2 separate regions of the Homo sapiens genome follow, and region 2 is linked to region 1. The links come from fine-mapping of genetic effects on gene expression. Tissue or cell type: whole blood. Region 1 holds a variant in brackets; the other region holds the start of a gene. All regions are shown on one strand. Distances are from middle to middle.

Region 1 (8,105 bases):
ATTGTCTTGAACTCCTGACCTCAAGTGATCCGCCTGCCTCGGCCTCCCAAAGTGCTGGGATTACAGGCATGAGACACTGTGCCTGGCCTCATTTTGGCTTTTGACTTTGTTTATGATTATTCTTTTTGTTTGCCATGCAAACACTTTTTATTTTTATATGGTCAAATTTATTGTTATTTTATTTTATGGTTTCTGGTTTCATTCATAGATTTTAAATTTTTTTCTCCTGGCTCCTTTAAGTTCTTTTAGGGTTAAATTTTTACATTTAAATTTTTGATCCACATACAATTGATCTCATTTTAAGGTATGAGATATACATCTGAACTTACTGTTTTTTCTCCCAAATGTCTGCCCAGTTGTGCTGGGACATTTATTGAAAATTCTATCTTGGCTGGGTGCAGTGGCTCACACGTGTAATCCCAGCACTTTGGAAGCCCAAGGCAGGCAGATCTCTTGAGGTCAGGTGTTCAAGACCAGCCTGGCCAACATGGCAAAACCCTGTCTCTACTAAAAATACAAAAATTAGCCAGGCGTGGAGGCACACACCTGTAATCCCAGCTACTTGGGAGGCTGAGGCACAAGAATTGCTTGAACCCAGGCGGCAGAGGTCGTGGTGAGCCGAGATCATTCCACTGCATTCCAGCCTGGGTGACAGCAAGAAAAGTCTATCCTAACTGGTTGAAATGCCATCCTTGCTCTACTATAAATTCCAGAGTTTCTTTGTGCCCATCTCAGTACTTCTGTGTCCCCTGCCATGTGTATCCAAGCACCAGCACCACAGTGCCTTTTTTTAGGCTCCATGCAGCTTAACTACAGGTCCCTGGGTCTGCAGACATGGAGATTTGCTGACCCTGAGGTGGGATGAGGAGGTAGGGGAAATAGCAAAAGAGTTGGATATTAAGATCAGAAAGCTTCTGGGCTCTCTCCAAAGAACCCCTAGCATCTAAAATGGCTTTGCTCCTATACCTCCTCTCAAAACAAAAAAAAAAAAAAAAAAAAAAAGAGAACAAAGAAGTCTGTTTCCTTATTCAACAGCTATTTGTCCAGCCTGAAAGAGCCCCTCTAGTCTAACCCTGTGCATGCTGCTGATCCTCTCCCAGAGTGCCTTCCAAGATTATTTCAGGAGCCTAGGAAGGCCCTAAGTGTGGCTTTGATCGCCATATTGGAAATGCTTCCCTCACTGGCTCCCTGGGCTCCAAGCCCAGTACTTGACAGTTGCCTGTAAACTGAGCAGGTCTTTATCTTAAAGACATCACAATGGACCCTAAACAAACACATTAACAACCACTCAGAGACCTAACGCTGGCCAATAAACAAACCCCCAGGAAAGCTTACTCAGAAAAGGTTCCTCCTTCCTGCAGCCCCTGAGGGCAGATCCCGGAGTCCCTCCTTCCTCAGCCTGCAGGCTGCTTTCCAAGGGCTCTCCAGCCCTCCCGGCAGGAATGTAATCATCTGCCCTGCGTGCCCTGCCTTCTCTCACCTTTACCCACAATAACCCAGCATGGTCACAATGCACTCAGTGCATACCTATTGCAAATAAAACAAGAAAGTAAATCTCCTTCAAAGGAACAGCTAATAGCTCCAGGCTACCAAAAACAATGTGTTCTATGGGAGCTAGCGATTACCCTATATACCAAGGGTTTAAATTTAAGGTCTTTAGATGAGCTTCGGAGGTTCCCTGAACCCCTACAATGATTTGCAAAATTTATATGTAGACTTATGAAGGGCATTTTTTCCCTAAGATACCGGGAAGGAGATTCCCTGTATCATCAGAGTTCAATATCAAAAATTTTTTTTAAATCTAGGTATCTATGGATAAAAGGATATGATGTCTAGATTTTGTTTCAAAACATTTCAGTTGGAGGACAAAGAGTGGGTGAAGTAGGTGCAGTTATGGATTAAACAAGATTGGCCATTAGTTGATACTTATTAAAGCTAGTGATGAGTGCTTGGAAATTTATTATATTATTCTGTCAAGAAAGAAGTGGAAGGAAGGAAGAAGAAAAGGAGGGAGTGAGGAAACCTTTTGCTACAGACTACGCTGAAAGAACCAGACAGACCATAGTATACATCTGCTATTCTCATAGTCCTAGCTTTATAGGAACAACTGCCCAGTGGATTGCCTGGTCAGTGTTTGAAAGCCTGGCAAATTTGTGGGTGCAGAGGCATGTTCTTCTCACTCTCACCCCCGCTCTCTATCCTCAGCATCACCCAGAGAGAGGGACCAGAATCCCTGAGGCCATCTTGGTTCATCTGCACCGTCTCTCCTACACCTCTTCACCCCTCCCCTCTCCACTTCACTCCAGGCTGCATTGGGGCGGGGAGGTGATCATCCAAGGCCCTGGCTCTCCATCGAGACCCCAGCCAGGTAGAGCCCCTATTGCCTGAGCAAGCTTGCGCAGGATGGGGCTGGAGCTGCACTATTTGGATCTTCTTGGAGTAGAAAATTCACAAATTCCAACCTCTGCTCCCAAAGCAAACCTCCCCAGCCCAGGTGGCTGCATCCTTCTCCTCCCCTCCCCCCAGTTCCCTGGGTCGCCAAGCCGGAGGCTTTGAAAACCAGCTTGTGTTTGGTTTGTGAAAGCACCAATGTTTGCAATGTTTGCCCAGCAGAGAAGGAGCATATTTTCTCCCTTCCAAATGCAAACTCAAAAGATGCTCCACCAGTTTTTCTTCAGACTTTCCACAGGAAACATAAATAAGAAAGAAAAATGACTTTAGGTGCTGAGACCTGAAATGGAATTTCAACCCTGAAGGAACTGCCTGTAACAAGCACTCTCTGTCCTTCAGTGAAGGCTTCGAGAGCCTAGGTGCATGTTTCTTTCCTCTGAGTAGCCTTCACAGATGAGGCAAGGGGAGGAGCTGAACCAGTTCTTAGACCTGACTCCCAGCTAGATCTTCAGCCCCACACAATGAATGGCCGGTGACTGGCACAGCAGCTGAGATTCCCTGGCTACAGTGTTCTTTTTTATCTTTCTTGATTGTGTTAGGGTAGAACAAATGAGGGTGCTGCAACCCGAGAGGCCCAGCCACACTGCAAGCCAGCACAATCAGAGTGTGAAGTGTGGACACGCCCCCCTGGAACACAAGGCCACAGTTTGCCACCTGCTCTGCCCTTGTCTCCATCTCGGAAGAAGGACATCCCTGATCTGTGGCCTCTGTCCTCACGGATCTTATAATTATCAGACAAACACAACCACAGAGAGGCTGGAAGGCAGTGCTTCAGCATCACACATATATGCATCGGTGACCAGAGTTCTGATTAATCTTAATGCACAGATAATTGGAGCATTTCTTGCTCACAGCTTATAGCCACCAAATGACTGCTTCCAGGTTAGGAGTTTGCAGAATATGTACACACACGGAGCCCTACAAAAGGCTCCAGACCCAAGAAATACAGGGTTGAAGTCAGTGTGGACAGTTCTAATGCAGCTAATACATTCTAACTGATTTGTTGTGAGCTAAGGGTTCAGTGTTTACACTTCAAGGTCACTGTTTCTGTCTCCTGACATCTGAGAACCTTTCTTCTTCTTCTTTTTTTTTTGAGACAGAGTCTTGCCGTGTCATCCAGGCTGGAGTGCAGTGGCATGATCTCGGCTCACTGTAACCTCTGCTTCCCAGGTTCAAGCGATTCTCTTGCCTCAGCCTCCTGAGTAGCTGGGATTATAGGCACCCCCCGCCAGACCTGGCAAATTTTGTATTTTTAGTTTCGCCGTGTTGGCCAGGCTGGTCT[C/T]GAACTCCTGGTCTCAAGTGATCCACCCACCTTAGCCTCCCAAAGTGCTGGGATTACAGGCGTGAGCCACCGCGCCTCACCCAAGAACTTTTCTTCTTAAGGTGTTTTCCTTTCCCATAGCATTCTATCTTTGGATAGGCCCAACGAGGCCATTGAGCATCTACCCTTTTTACAAAACATATTATCAATCTTATAGCCCATATGTTTAGTGATAAGTCAACTAAACAAAGCAAGGGACCCCACTGGAAGGTGCTTGTGGGAAGTGTACCCTTCCATCTAGGACTTCACTTTGATGTACCAAATTCTGAGAAAGACCCCAGAAGCCATTTCCTTCTTGCTGAGGTTTATTTATCTTGTTTATCTGAAGCCAGGGCCAATAACCCAAATGGCTTTCAAATGGCTACAAAAGTGTCTCAGCATTCGATTAATCAGTCCCATCACAGACAAGTCAACTAACCTGCAGACCCACGTGCTGTACTCATAGTCGTTGCTGGTTCTGGCAGGGGTGATCTGGGAGGAGGTATTTCCCGGAGGTGTTTCCGAAGGGAGAGGCACTAGCTGAAGTTGGCTCTGAGATTCGAAGCGGAGGAGGAAAGGGAAGGTGGAGTGCTGATGCTGACAAGGTGAGGAAGAGGAGGAGTAGAGGTTACCAGCGCTCAGAGCATGGGTTTTGGAGGCACACAGATCTGTGCCCAAAGGGCTATCAATGCTCTTCCACTTCATTGCTGAGCAACCTGATGTGTTCATACGTTCCCTGATGTGTAAAAGTGGCACAATACTTGCGTCTACCTTATAAAGTGCCTGCAAGCACTAAGACAAAATGTAGACAGAGCTTAATGCAGTGCCGGACTCAGTCAACAAATAGCAAATGGAAGTCGTTCTCATTAAACAGCGAAAAGGAAGTAAAAAGGAAGACAGAGGAAGACAAAGGGGAGATGGGGAGGGGATGCCGTGGGAGGCTGTGGGTGGGGTGCAGAGGCTGACACTGCAGACAGCAGCCCCTCACCCAGCTCCATCTCTGGGCGCCTGGGACAACACAGCTCTCGGTCCAGACAGGCTGCTCAGATGTTTATTAAGAAACCACCCATAAAAGTTATTGGAAACTTTACATTTGCAGCATGGTCTCTGCACACTGCCGAGCTGCCACGGCTCTCAACAAGGCCTCATTCACGGCCCTAGGCAGCTCACTTGCCTGCCCCCAGCCCCTGGGTCTCAAGCCCACCAGGGTGCCTCCCAGCCCCCGCCCCCAGCCCAAGCCTGGCCTCCTTCCCTCCCTTGGGTCTGAGTGATTTTCTGATTTGCCTTTTCCAAATGTGAAATCTTTGAATGAGGTCACTTCAACTGGAGAGCAAGGGATAGGCCACAAGACAATGTTTCCTAAGTGCAAAGGTCCCTGGGTGATTTTAGGTAGAACTTGGATGAAAGTTTTGCATTCTAATAGTGTTATATATAGTATCTATATTTTAATGTACATGTGTATGTATTTTGGCAGGGACCAAACCTGTAAAACAGATTTATTTTAATAAGTATTGGAGGAAAAGGTAGAATATCAATCCCATGTTACAGAGTTTTCATTTCAAGTAAACTTGAGTAAAGTAAAAGAGAATGAGAAAGTTGACTTAAGGAAACCATAAAAACAATCATAGTCTAGGTGACCCTCAGATCTAGCAAATCGATCTGGGAACACTGCATGTGATCTCAGCCCTCACCTAGAGCTGTCTGGACACAGCAGTCTGATGGACACAATTTTGTTCTACACAGGGAGGTCCTGCCCCGGGCTGGTCAGAGAGGGGGCCTGCTCCTTATCCAGAGAGTTCTAGTGACTTGTCCCGGCTCCCTGGGTCATGGTTCTGCCTGTCCCCTCCAGTCTGCACTTGGCCAGACTTTTCTACTGAGACACTGTCTACAGGCACAGGGCAGCTCCTCAGATCAGCACCCAAGGCCCTTCTCATCCAGCTTTCCTGTCTCTGTCCCTGGTTGGCTTCTCCACCAGGCCCAGTGTACTCAGGGCCAGGACGGCGTGGCTCCTCTCTTTGGTTTCCCCTCTGCTTAGACTGCTCTGCTGACACGATTTGCCCACTGGCCTGACTTGTTCCTGCTCCCCCACCTTCTCCCAGGCTCCCAAACCTCCCCCTCCCTGCAAGTGGGGCAGATAGTACAGCATCATGCTCGAGTTCAGGCTCGAGTTCTAATCTTATAACTACTGCTTGCCAGCTCTGTGTGCTTGAGCCAATTGCTTAACCTCTCTGTTACTCAGTTGCCTCATCTGTTATGGGGGGCAATGGCAGCAACATCTTCCTCCTCCCAGGTTTGTTGGGAGAACTGAATGAACAGACAGTACCAGATTCACAGTAACAGCAAGTACACTGCATGGCTGTGCCTTCATTGGAGTTTAGTTCTTGCCAAGAGCAGCCTTTCAGCACTCATTTTCCAGGGAGTAGGTGCTTGATCTGTTGGCTGATTATGGATGTACCATGAGGTGTTTTCTACATACAATCTCTTGATCCCTGAGCCTGAGAGCTGAGTTTCTTTCCTGGATCTAACAGCCCTGTGGAAAGTTGGAGAGCACTTATTCCTGGGCTATCGCACAGCCGTCTCTTCTCTGGAAGGTCTGGTCTCCAGGGCTCTTCGTGGAGCTCATCTTCCTCTGTCAAGTTTGGCCTAGGAGACGGAATCCTCCAGGAGCAGGCCTGGCTGGGGATGCACATAGACCTTCCCCGGCACAGAAAGGACAGTGCCTGGGGACACTCAAGGCCATCTTCTCTGAAGCCCACCCACGTGGACAGACTAGAGAGAAGCCACTAGCACACACCCAGTGTCTCCTTGTGCCAGACACTAAGTTAGGTGCACCCTACAAGGTCCAGGCCCTGGTCCTTCAGCCGTTGCTCAGGTGGCTACAATGACAGCTCCAGAGCCTGGGGATTGGGGCGAGTTCTCCAGAGCCTGGGGGTTGGGGTGAGTTCTCCAGCCGTCAGCCTGTGGCCACCCTGGAGCATGCTCAGAGGGAGCGGGCTCCAGCCTCCTGCCTTCCCTCGCCCCAGGCCTCAGCCTTTTCTGAAAGAAATGTTGTGTTCCCTCGGCCCTCCCCCCTTGCCACATCCCCTTCCTCCCACAGAGCCCGGGTCCCCCAGGCTACAGTCCAGCAGTCCCTCTGTGAGCAGACTTCCAGTGACACATGGCTTTGTTAGAAACCTCATTAGCAGAGACAGAAAGGCGAGAGGCAGCTCAGAGAGGCATTCCAGGTGTCAGTTAAGAGGGGCCGCAGGAGGAAAAGGCCATTAAACCACAACTAAGGTCAGCCCCCGGTAGAATGAAAAAACAATAAACTGAGACCTTGGAGAGTGGTGGGAAGGTAACTGGGGAATTGAGGGAGGGTACCCCTGCCTCAGGCTGGGGAGGGAAGGCCTTGGGTCCTGGAAGGGACACCAGCTTGTCTTGCCTGATGCTGGGAGTCTCAGAGGCTGTTCTGTGTAAACTCCTGGAGGCAGGGACTGGGCCCCAGGAGACTCTGAACCCCGCGCCCAGCGCACGCTCAGCACACCACAGGCACTGGGCACGCGCCTGATGAATGAGTGGAGATTGAGCCTGGCGCACAGGAGGAGGCTGGAGTGCTTGCCATGCATTAGATGCTGGGCTCGGCACTGCCTGTCTGCAAACTCTTCGTACCCCAAGACGTGAGTATTATTAGCTCCCTTTTAAAGACAAGCAAACGTAGACACTAGAATATGTTATTTTGGGGCTCCCCAGACTCTGGGAATTCACTAGAACTCTACCTATTGATACTTGGAACTTCTGAAACAGACACATTCCTTCATTCCAGAATTAGTCATAAAAAGGCTGAATGAGGCCGGGCGTGGTGGCTCACGCCTGTAATCCCAGCACTTTGGGAAGCTGAGGCAAGCAGATCATGAGGTCAAGAGATGGAGACCATCCTGGGCAACATGGTGAAACCCCGTCTCTACTAAAAATACAAAAATTAGCTGGGCGTGGTGACGTGTGCCTGTAGTCCCAGGTACTCAGGAGGCTGAGGCAGGAGAATTGCTTGAACCCGGGAGGCAGAGGTTGCGGTGAGCCGAGATCGCGCCACTGCACTCCAGCCTGGTGACAGAGCGAGACTCCACCTCAAAAGAAAAAAAAAAAAGGCCGAATGCCTGTGGAGGCTAAGGCAGCACACTGAAACTCACTCCTGAAGGGTCATTAGAATGATTGTCTGGTATCTGGAATTCCCTGGCCTGTCAAGGATGATGGGGGCTGCCCTGAGCTGGGGAACATGCTCGGCTGAGGGAGGTGGAGGACAGTGGCAGGCCTGTGTGCACTCCCAGCGTTGCCTCAGTGAGCTGTTTGCCTTCACTGGGCAGGGACCCACAAGGGT
Region 2 (8,105 bases), 94 kb after region 1:
CCCATTTTTTCAACAAAAATTATCTAGGTCTCGTAGGATGGAGAAATCAAAAGTGCCGTTTTCTGGCCATTTAGAACCATTGTCGAGTTTGTATTGGTGCAAAGCGGTGTTGCAGAAGAAAATGAGATGCCTAGATTTTAGGTCAGGTGAGAGTTGAAGAGGTTTTAAGTTCTTGAGAACACAGGCTAAGGCAGAAGAAGGAGGAATGGAGGGTGGAAGGTTGCCCATAGTAAAGGAGGCAAGTTTAAAGAGAAGAGTAGAGTCATGGAGAAGGGGGATGGGGAGCAGCTCTGGGCTGCAATGTGGGTGAGCAGCCAAAGCAGGCATCCCTGCAATTGACTTGCCACCAAGGGAACACGGGTGAATGATCAAGGCAGGCGTCCCTGTGGAGATCAGACACCAATGGAACATGGGTGAATAATCAGAGAGGCATCCCCACGATAATTAAACACCAAGGGAAGGCTGCTGACCCGGGTCTTCGGCACCAAATGTTTCACGTGTCCATGTGAAGAGATCACCAAACAGGCTTTGTGTGAGCAACGAGGCTGTTTATTTCACCTAGGTGCAGGTGGGCTGAGTCCGAAAAAGGAGTCTGCAAAGGGTGGTGGATTATCATTAGTTCTTATAGGTTTTAGGATAGGCGGTGGAGTTAAGAGCAATGTTTTGAGGGAAGGGGGTGGATCTCACAAAGTACGTTCTCAAGGATGGGGAGAATTACAAAGAACCTTCTTAAAGGTGGGGGAGATTACAAAGTACATTGATCAGTTAAGGTGGGGCAGAAACAAATCACAATGGTGGAATGTCGTCAGTTAAGGCTATTTTCACTTTTGTAGATCTTCAGTTGCTTCAGGCCATCTGGATGTATACGTGCAGGTCACTGGGGATATGATGGCTTAGCTTGGGCTCAGAGGCCTGACAGCCTGACCATCTTGGGCACATGTTCTCAGGATCTCCTGAGGGCTGTATCACAGGCCATTGGTCACTCATATTTGGCTCAGAATAAATATCTTCAAATATTTTACAAATTTTGACACTTTTTGTCATATTTATATGACACATTTTATTTATCCATTCTTTAGTTGATGGACTTTGGGCTCTTTCCACATTTTGCCAACATTGTGAATAATGTTGCTATGAACATTGGTATACAGATTTTGTGTGTACATATGTTTTCATTTTTCGTAGGTATATACCTAGGAGTGGAATTGCTAATTAATATGATGACTCTATGTTTAACATTTGAGGAACTGCCAAATTTCCACTGCAGCTGCACCACTTTACATTCCTACCAGCAATGCAGAAGGGTTCCAATTTGTTCACATCCGCTGTAATACTTTTCTTTCTTTTTCCTTTCCCCCCTTCCCTCCCTTCCTTCCTTCCTTCCTCTCTCTCTCCCTCACTCCCTGCCTCCTTCCTTTCTTCCTCTCCCTCTCTCCTTCCCTCCTTCCTTCTTTTCTCCTTCCTTCCTTCCTTCCCTCCCCCTCTCCCTCCTTTCTCTCTCTCCACCCCTCCCTACCTCCTTCCTTCCATCTTCCTTCCTTTCTTTTTTTCTTTTTTGATAATAGCCATCCTAATGGATATGAAGTAGTATTTTCACTTCAAATGAAGTAGTTTTGATTTGCATTGCCCTAATGGCTATTGATGTTGAGCATCTTTTCTTGTACTTTTTAGCCATTATATATCATTTTTAGAGAACTGTCTATTCAAGCCTTTGCTCATTTTTAAATTTTTTATGTTTGAGACAGGATCTCACTCTGTCGCCCAGGGTGGAGTGTGGTGGCGCAATCTCGGCTCACTGCAAGCTCTGCCTCCCAGGCTCAAGTCATTCTTGTGCCTCAACCTCCTGAGTAGCTGGGACTACAGGCATGTGCCACCACACCTGGCTAATTTTTTGTATTTTTGTAGAGACGGGGTTTCACCATGTTGCCCAGTCTGGTCTTAAATTCCGGAGCTCAAACAATCCACCTGCCTTGGCCTCCCAAAGTGCTGGGATTACAGGTGTGAGCCATTGTGCCTGGCCAGTTTTCCCTACTTATTAACATCTTGCATTAGTGTGGTACACTTGTGATAATTGATAACCCAATATTTATACATTATTATTAGCTAAGTTCCATAGTTTACATTAGGGTTTACTCTTTGGATTGTATAGTTCTATGAATTTGACAAATGCATAATGTCATGACAAATGTATGTCATGTATCTGTTATAGCATCATACCGAATCATTTTAGTGCCCCTAAAATCCCCTGTGCTCCACCTATTAATCTCTCCTTCTCTATCCCAAGCCCCAGTAACAACTGATATTTTTATTGTCTCCGTAGTTTTACCTTTTCCAGACTGTCATACAGTTGGAATCATACAGTATGCAGCCTTTTCACACTGGCCCGTTTCACTATGTCTTTTCCTGGCTTGATAATTTTTTATTGATGGAAAATATTCCATTGTATAGCTGTATCACAGTTTGTTTATTCACCTTTTGAGGGACATCTTGGTTGCCTCCAGCTTTTGGCAATTATGAATAAAGCTTTTATAAACATTCATGTGCAGGTTTTTTGTGCAGACATAATTTTCAGCTCATTCAGCTAAATACTTAGGAGTGCTATTGCTGGATCATGTGGTAAGACAATATTTAGCTTTGTAAAAAACTGTCAAACTGTCTTCTACAGTGACTGTACCATTGTGCATTCCCACCAGCAATTAATGAGAGTTCCAGTGGTTCCACATTCTCATTAGCATTTGGATTTTTGAATTTTAATCATTTAATCATTCTAATAGGTGTGTAGTGGTGTCTCACTGTTTTAATTTGCAGTTCGCTAATGACATATGATGTTGACATCTTTTCATGTTTATTTGCCACCTGTATATCTTCTTTGGTCAACTCTTTTGCCCATTTTTAAATTGAGGTATTTTCTTTTTATTGTCACTGAAAAGAGTCAAACTGTAAAACATTTGAAGAGATTTATCCTGAGCCAAATACGAGTGACCAATAGCTCCCCCATGACACAGCCCTCAGGAGATCCTGAGAACATGTGTTCAAGATGGTCGGGCCACAAGTTGGTTTTATAAATTTTAGGGAGATATAAGGTATCAATGAATATATGTAAGATGTACATTCATTTAGTCCAGAAAGGCGGGATAACTGGAAGCAGGGAGGGGGGAGCGGGGCTTCCAGGTCATAGGTAGATTCAAAGATTTTCTGATTGGAAATTGGTGAAAAGAGTTAAGTTATTGTCCAAAGACTTAATAGAAAAGCAATCTGTGAGGACCAAGGTTTTATCAGGTGGACAAAGCTTCCAGGTAGCAGGTTTCAGAGAATAGATTGTAAATGTTTCTTATCAGACTTAAAGAGTCTGTTCTATCAGTAATTCCAAAAGGGAGGAGCATATAATGAAGTGTGTCTGGCTTCCCCTTTCCATCAACGTCTGAACTAGTTTTTCAGATTAACTTTGGAATACCCTTGACTGAGAGGAGGGGTCTATTCAGATGGTTGAGGGGCTTATAATTTTATTTTTGGTTTACATTCTTAATGAGTTGCAAATGAGTTCTTTATTTATTCTGGATGCCAGCCCCTTATCAGATACATGATTTGCAAATATTTTCTCCCATTCTGTGGGTTGTCTTTCCACTTTCTTGATGGTATAATTTGGAGAACAAATGCTTTTATTTTGTGTAGTCAAATGGGGTTTTATCTCCTAGTCACTTGCATTTGTATTGTTTGTGCCAGAATGTGCAGAGGTAGAGATACAAGTAAGCAAGAGGAAGAGGGCAGTGGTAAAAGCAAGAGGAGACCCGACTGTGGAGACAATGAAGCAAAGGGAAGGTGAGACTTGAGTAATGGATGCACCTCTTGCTCTGGGAGCATCTGACCCTTTTTCCAGAGTGGATCCTGTTTGCTGTGAAGCCCAATTTATATGTTTGCTTCACTGCCAGAATCCCGCCCCCATCCCTCCCCACTGCAGGCTTGAGAAGTGGCCTCACAGACACGCCCTTCCCTCTTGACACTTTCATTCCAAATAGCTAGCTTTTCTGTACTTTCTCTGAGAAAGGTAATGTAAATGTAAAAGAAGTTTTTGAGGCTATTCTATAGAAGATGTCATAATTCAATGTTCCTCAAAGGCAGGGACTATATTTATTTTTTTTAAACCTCTCGGCACCTAATGCAAAATCTAGCACACAGACTCCCAAGAAATGTTTGCTTAAAGACGGATAGAGGGCCACAGGGGCAGGTTTTATTAGCAGTTGCTGAAGATGTTGGAATGCAAGGTGTCTCAGGCAGTCTGGACTAGGAAAAAGTTCTGTGTTGAAAACAAGAGAAGCAACGAAATAATTTATTATTCCCATTAAATAAAGATGCTGATGGCTCTCGAGATAGATATGAGGACCCCAGGACTCTGGGGAGTGAAGGAACTAAGCCGCTGCCATATCTGAGCTGAGTACTTAGGGGGAGGAGGAAGAGGAGGAGAAAGGCAAGCAGGAGGAGGCGGAGCCTTCTTGTCAGCATCTGTTAGTGGAGGTTGGGAAGCCTCTCCTCCTTCCCCCTCCCTCTTTGCCTCCACCTGGCTCCTCCCCATGTTCGTCCATCACCCCTCCCCCCTTTCCCAAGGACAATCTGCAAGAAAGCAGCGGCGGAGGAGAGCTAAGACTAAAAGGCAAGAGGGGCCATTGAGTGAAGAGCAAGGGGGAGAGCTGGGAGTGAGGTGGGAAGGTATGGGCCGGGAGCAGGCGGTAGGGAGAACTGAAAGGAGCAGAAAGGAAAAGAAGAGATACGGCATCCTAAGCTGGAGCCGAGAGGGGGATGGGCAGGGCAGTCGTGAAGGATCCTAGCCCCTTGGCCAGTCCCCTCCGCTTGCAGGCTCAGCTGCATTCCCCAGGAATCTGGGATGGGTGGGTGGGGCTCGGACGGGTTGCCCTTGGCTGCCTGACCCTACCCTGGCACTCACCCAATTCAAATCAGTGCTCCTATGATGCTGCTTTTCTGTTCCTCCCTGCCGCGTGCTTATATACGCACGTGATTTTAGAGATATGTTTTAATATCTGTCTGTTTTTGTCTACGTGCGTGTCATTGTGGGTCTGTAAGGGATGCTTATACATGAGTCTGCATGAATTTCTGTGTCCTGTGCCTCTATAACTGTCTTAGAGATTTCAGGAGAAGAATATGAGCGGTTTTTACAGGTCAGCACTCTTAAACTCCTCTTGTTATGGCGAATTTTCTCCCTCACTGACGCTTCCAGGGGTGGAAGAGCTCTGTGTGGGATTCTGCCCCCGTCATGAGCTCCAAGAGTGAATGAGAAGAAAAAACGGGAGGAAAGGGATCAGCATACCCAGATGTCTTGTTTTTTCCTTTCCACCTTTTTGCCTTCCTATTTGCCCTAGTCACTTAATCTTTCTTTTTGGAAAACAGCAGAAATTTGGACATGAACATTCCAGTTAAATAAGAGCGTCTCTAGTCACGCGTGTCTCTATGTTCCTTTCACTGTTTGTCACTATATGATTTCTCAAGTCCAAGTTAAAAGTGTGTTTTAAAGTAGAATATGGAGGTATATCTGTATCTAAGCCGATTTTACATTTTTCATATATTTGTATTTCATGTAGTTCATCAGTTCATTAACGTTTTCAACAAGTATTTATTGGGGTCCTGTAATGTGCATAGACTTTGCAAGTCTTTAGTGAGCTGTGGGAGAGTTTTTAAAAATGATCATGATCCCTGCCCTGGAGGAGTTCTCAGTCTAGTTAGGAAAAATGACTTTAGCAGCCATCCAGTCCAGTGGTTGGCAAACTTCGTCTGTAAAAGACCAGATAGTAAATATTTTAAACTGCAGGCTTATGAGTCTCTGTCACAATATCCATTCTGCTGTTGTAGCACAAAAACATCCATGATAATACGTGAATGAACGAAGGTAGTGCACATACTGAAATTTGAACTTAACATTTTTCACATGTCATGAAGTACTTTTTGCAACCACTAAAAAATATAAAAACCTTTCACAGCTTACTGCCATACAAAAATGTGAGAAGGGCTGGATTTGGCCTACAGGCTGTTGTATGCTGACCCCTGATCTAGTCCAACCCTCTTATCAGTGCGTACGAAACTATTAAAATGCCACATAAAGCAGGCCGAGCATGGTGGTTTATGCCTGTTATCCCAGCACTTTGGGAGGCAAGGTGGGCGGATCACCTGAAGTCAGGAGTTCAAGACCAGCTTGACCGACATGGTGAAAACCCGTCTCAATTAAAAATACAAAAATTAGCCGGGTGTGGTGGTGCATGTCTGTAATCCCAGCTACTCGGGAGGCTGAGGCAGGAGAATCACTTGAACCTGGGAGGCAGTGATCCAGTTTAGACAACATGTGGTTAGAGGAAGTCCAAAAGAAGGTTTCCTTGACCTGTGGTAATCAGTGAAGGTTTAATAAGGGTACAACTATCACTGGTCTTAAATGATGGAATGGGATGTGAATCTGTGGAAAGGGCCAGGGTAGCCACCTGGACAAGGGATGCAGTGTGCCCAGGCACTAAAGTGGGAAGAGCAAAGTAATGTTCAGGTGACAATGGAGCAGAGAATCTATAGGACCAACAGTTGAAGCTATATGCAAGGGCTAAATTGTAGAAGCTTCGAATGCCAACCCAACAAGTTGGGACCTTATTTGTTAGTACTGATTATATGTAGTACGTTCATTAATCTCTGTCTGTTAACACAATGCATGTTTGTGAATGTATGTCTTCATATATGTCTCATTGCATTATTTTATTATTTGTGTGGATTTGGGTGTTTATGTGACTTATGTCTCTATAGGCAGCTACCCTGAGTTCTCCAAATGCAGGGTAGAAGCAAGCACAAGCTGCCCGTAAAACTTGGGTTCCTGTGAATGAATACACATCTCCACTGAAGCCTAGGGACCTATGACCTTCCTATGAAGGTTTATTTTGTGTGTCTAATAGAGTGAAGAAAGGAACACAAGCACAGGGAAACCAGCTATTGTAGTAAGCAGTTCAGGTGGAAAATGGCAATGAGGATAGAAAGGAGGGGATGGATAAAGGAAGATAATAAGAAGGGAGAATAATAGGATTTAGTTACTGTTTTGAATCTGAGAGGAAGGGAGGAGATAAATTTAAAATAACAGGTTTTAGCCTGAAAAACTGGGAGAGTGATAATTCTACTGGCATTTTATGGATACAAAAATACGTCCTCTTGTGTGTTCCTTTGAGAGAGGTGATCCCTAAAGAATAAAATATGAAGGTGTTCCCATGTCGTATGTACACATCTGTGTATATACGGCAGTGACTTTGTGTTAATTTTCTCATTTCATAGCATGTAGTAATGTGAGGGGCAAGACCCAAAGACCAAGGATCAAGAGATGCTCAGGAGGCTGACATCCTGAGAGGGAAGAGCCATAGAAAGCCCCTGACCATTCTTGAGACTGACACCATTAATTTGCCTAACTCTGATGTGCCTTTATAGCCTCAGACTCCAGTTTCAACTCCATATCACCTAACCCCATTCCAATAGCACAATTCCATAACACCCAACCCTAATCTTAATTATAATCCAACCTACCCTTGCTCTTCTACTTCTACTTTGCTGATTGTCATCAGTGCCCTAAACCTCATCTGATTCCAGCCCTCTGCAATAACCTATCCCTTCATTGAAAAGGGAGGGATCGTTGAGGCTAACTCAACTTTTTCTCCTCCCTTTCTCATTTCTATTCAGTCAACTTCTCTTTTCCCTGACCTTAGTTTATTCCCCAAATAGGTTCCAATTGGGGTGGGAGGGATCAGGGAGGAATTAGGACCTTAGTAGTCTTGGGCTTGATTACATGACATTTCAGCTTGTCAGTCTACAAGGGTGTGGCTTTCCTCTGGAAGAAGTCCAAAGCTCTCAGGCTGCAAAGCTCAGACTTGGTATAGTGGGAGAGCCTGACTGAGGTGGCTCTAGCCAGTCTAATTGCCGTTCCTTTAGCTAGTGGCATCTTGATTCCTGCTGTGTCTTAACTGACCATTGTCTTAAATTCTAGAGTGGATCATGACCCATGAAGAGCACCATGCAGCCAAAACCCTGGGGATTGGCAAAGCCATTGCTGTCTTAACCTCTGGTGGAGATGCCCAAGGTAA

Evidence for each region. PIP is the estimated chance that this variant, and not a neighbour inherited with it, causes the effect.
Region 2: it holds the start of PFKM, and the variant in region 1 is fine-mapped to the expression of PFKM in whole blood (TOPMed, PIP above 0.99).

The regions. Positions count from the first base shown.
Region 1 is chr12:48,020,630-48,028,734 of GRCh38, forward strand. The region is part of intron 2 of LOC105369750 (a long non-coding RNA gene); the gene reads left to right. LOC124902927 (a long non-coding RNA gene) reads right to left here and starts at 1,546. Exons shown (of 2, transcript XR_007063293.1): 1 at 1,336-1,546. RefSeq lists an enhancer at 889-1,880. The variant C/T (reference allele first, on the strand shown) is at 3,734.
Region 2 is chr12:48,114,759-48,122,863 of GRCh38, forward strand. It overlaps PFKM (phosphofructokinase, muscle), which reads left to right and starts at 4,606. Exons shown (of 23, transcript NM_000289.6): 1 at 4,606-4,648; 2 at 8,009-8,101. The coding sequence starts at 8,017. RefSeq lists an enhancer at 4,202-4,271.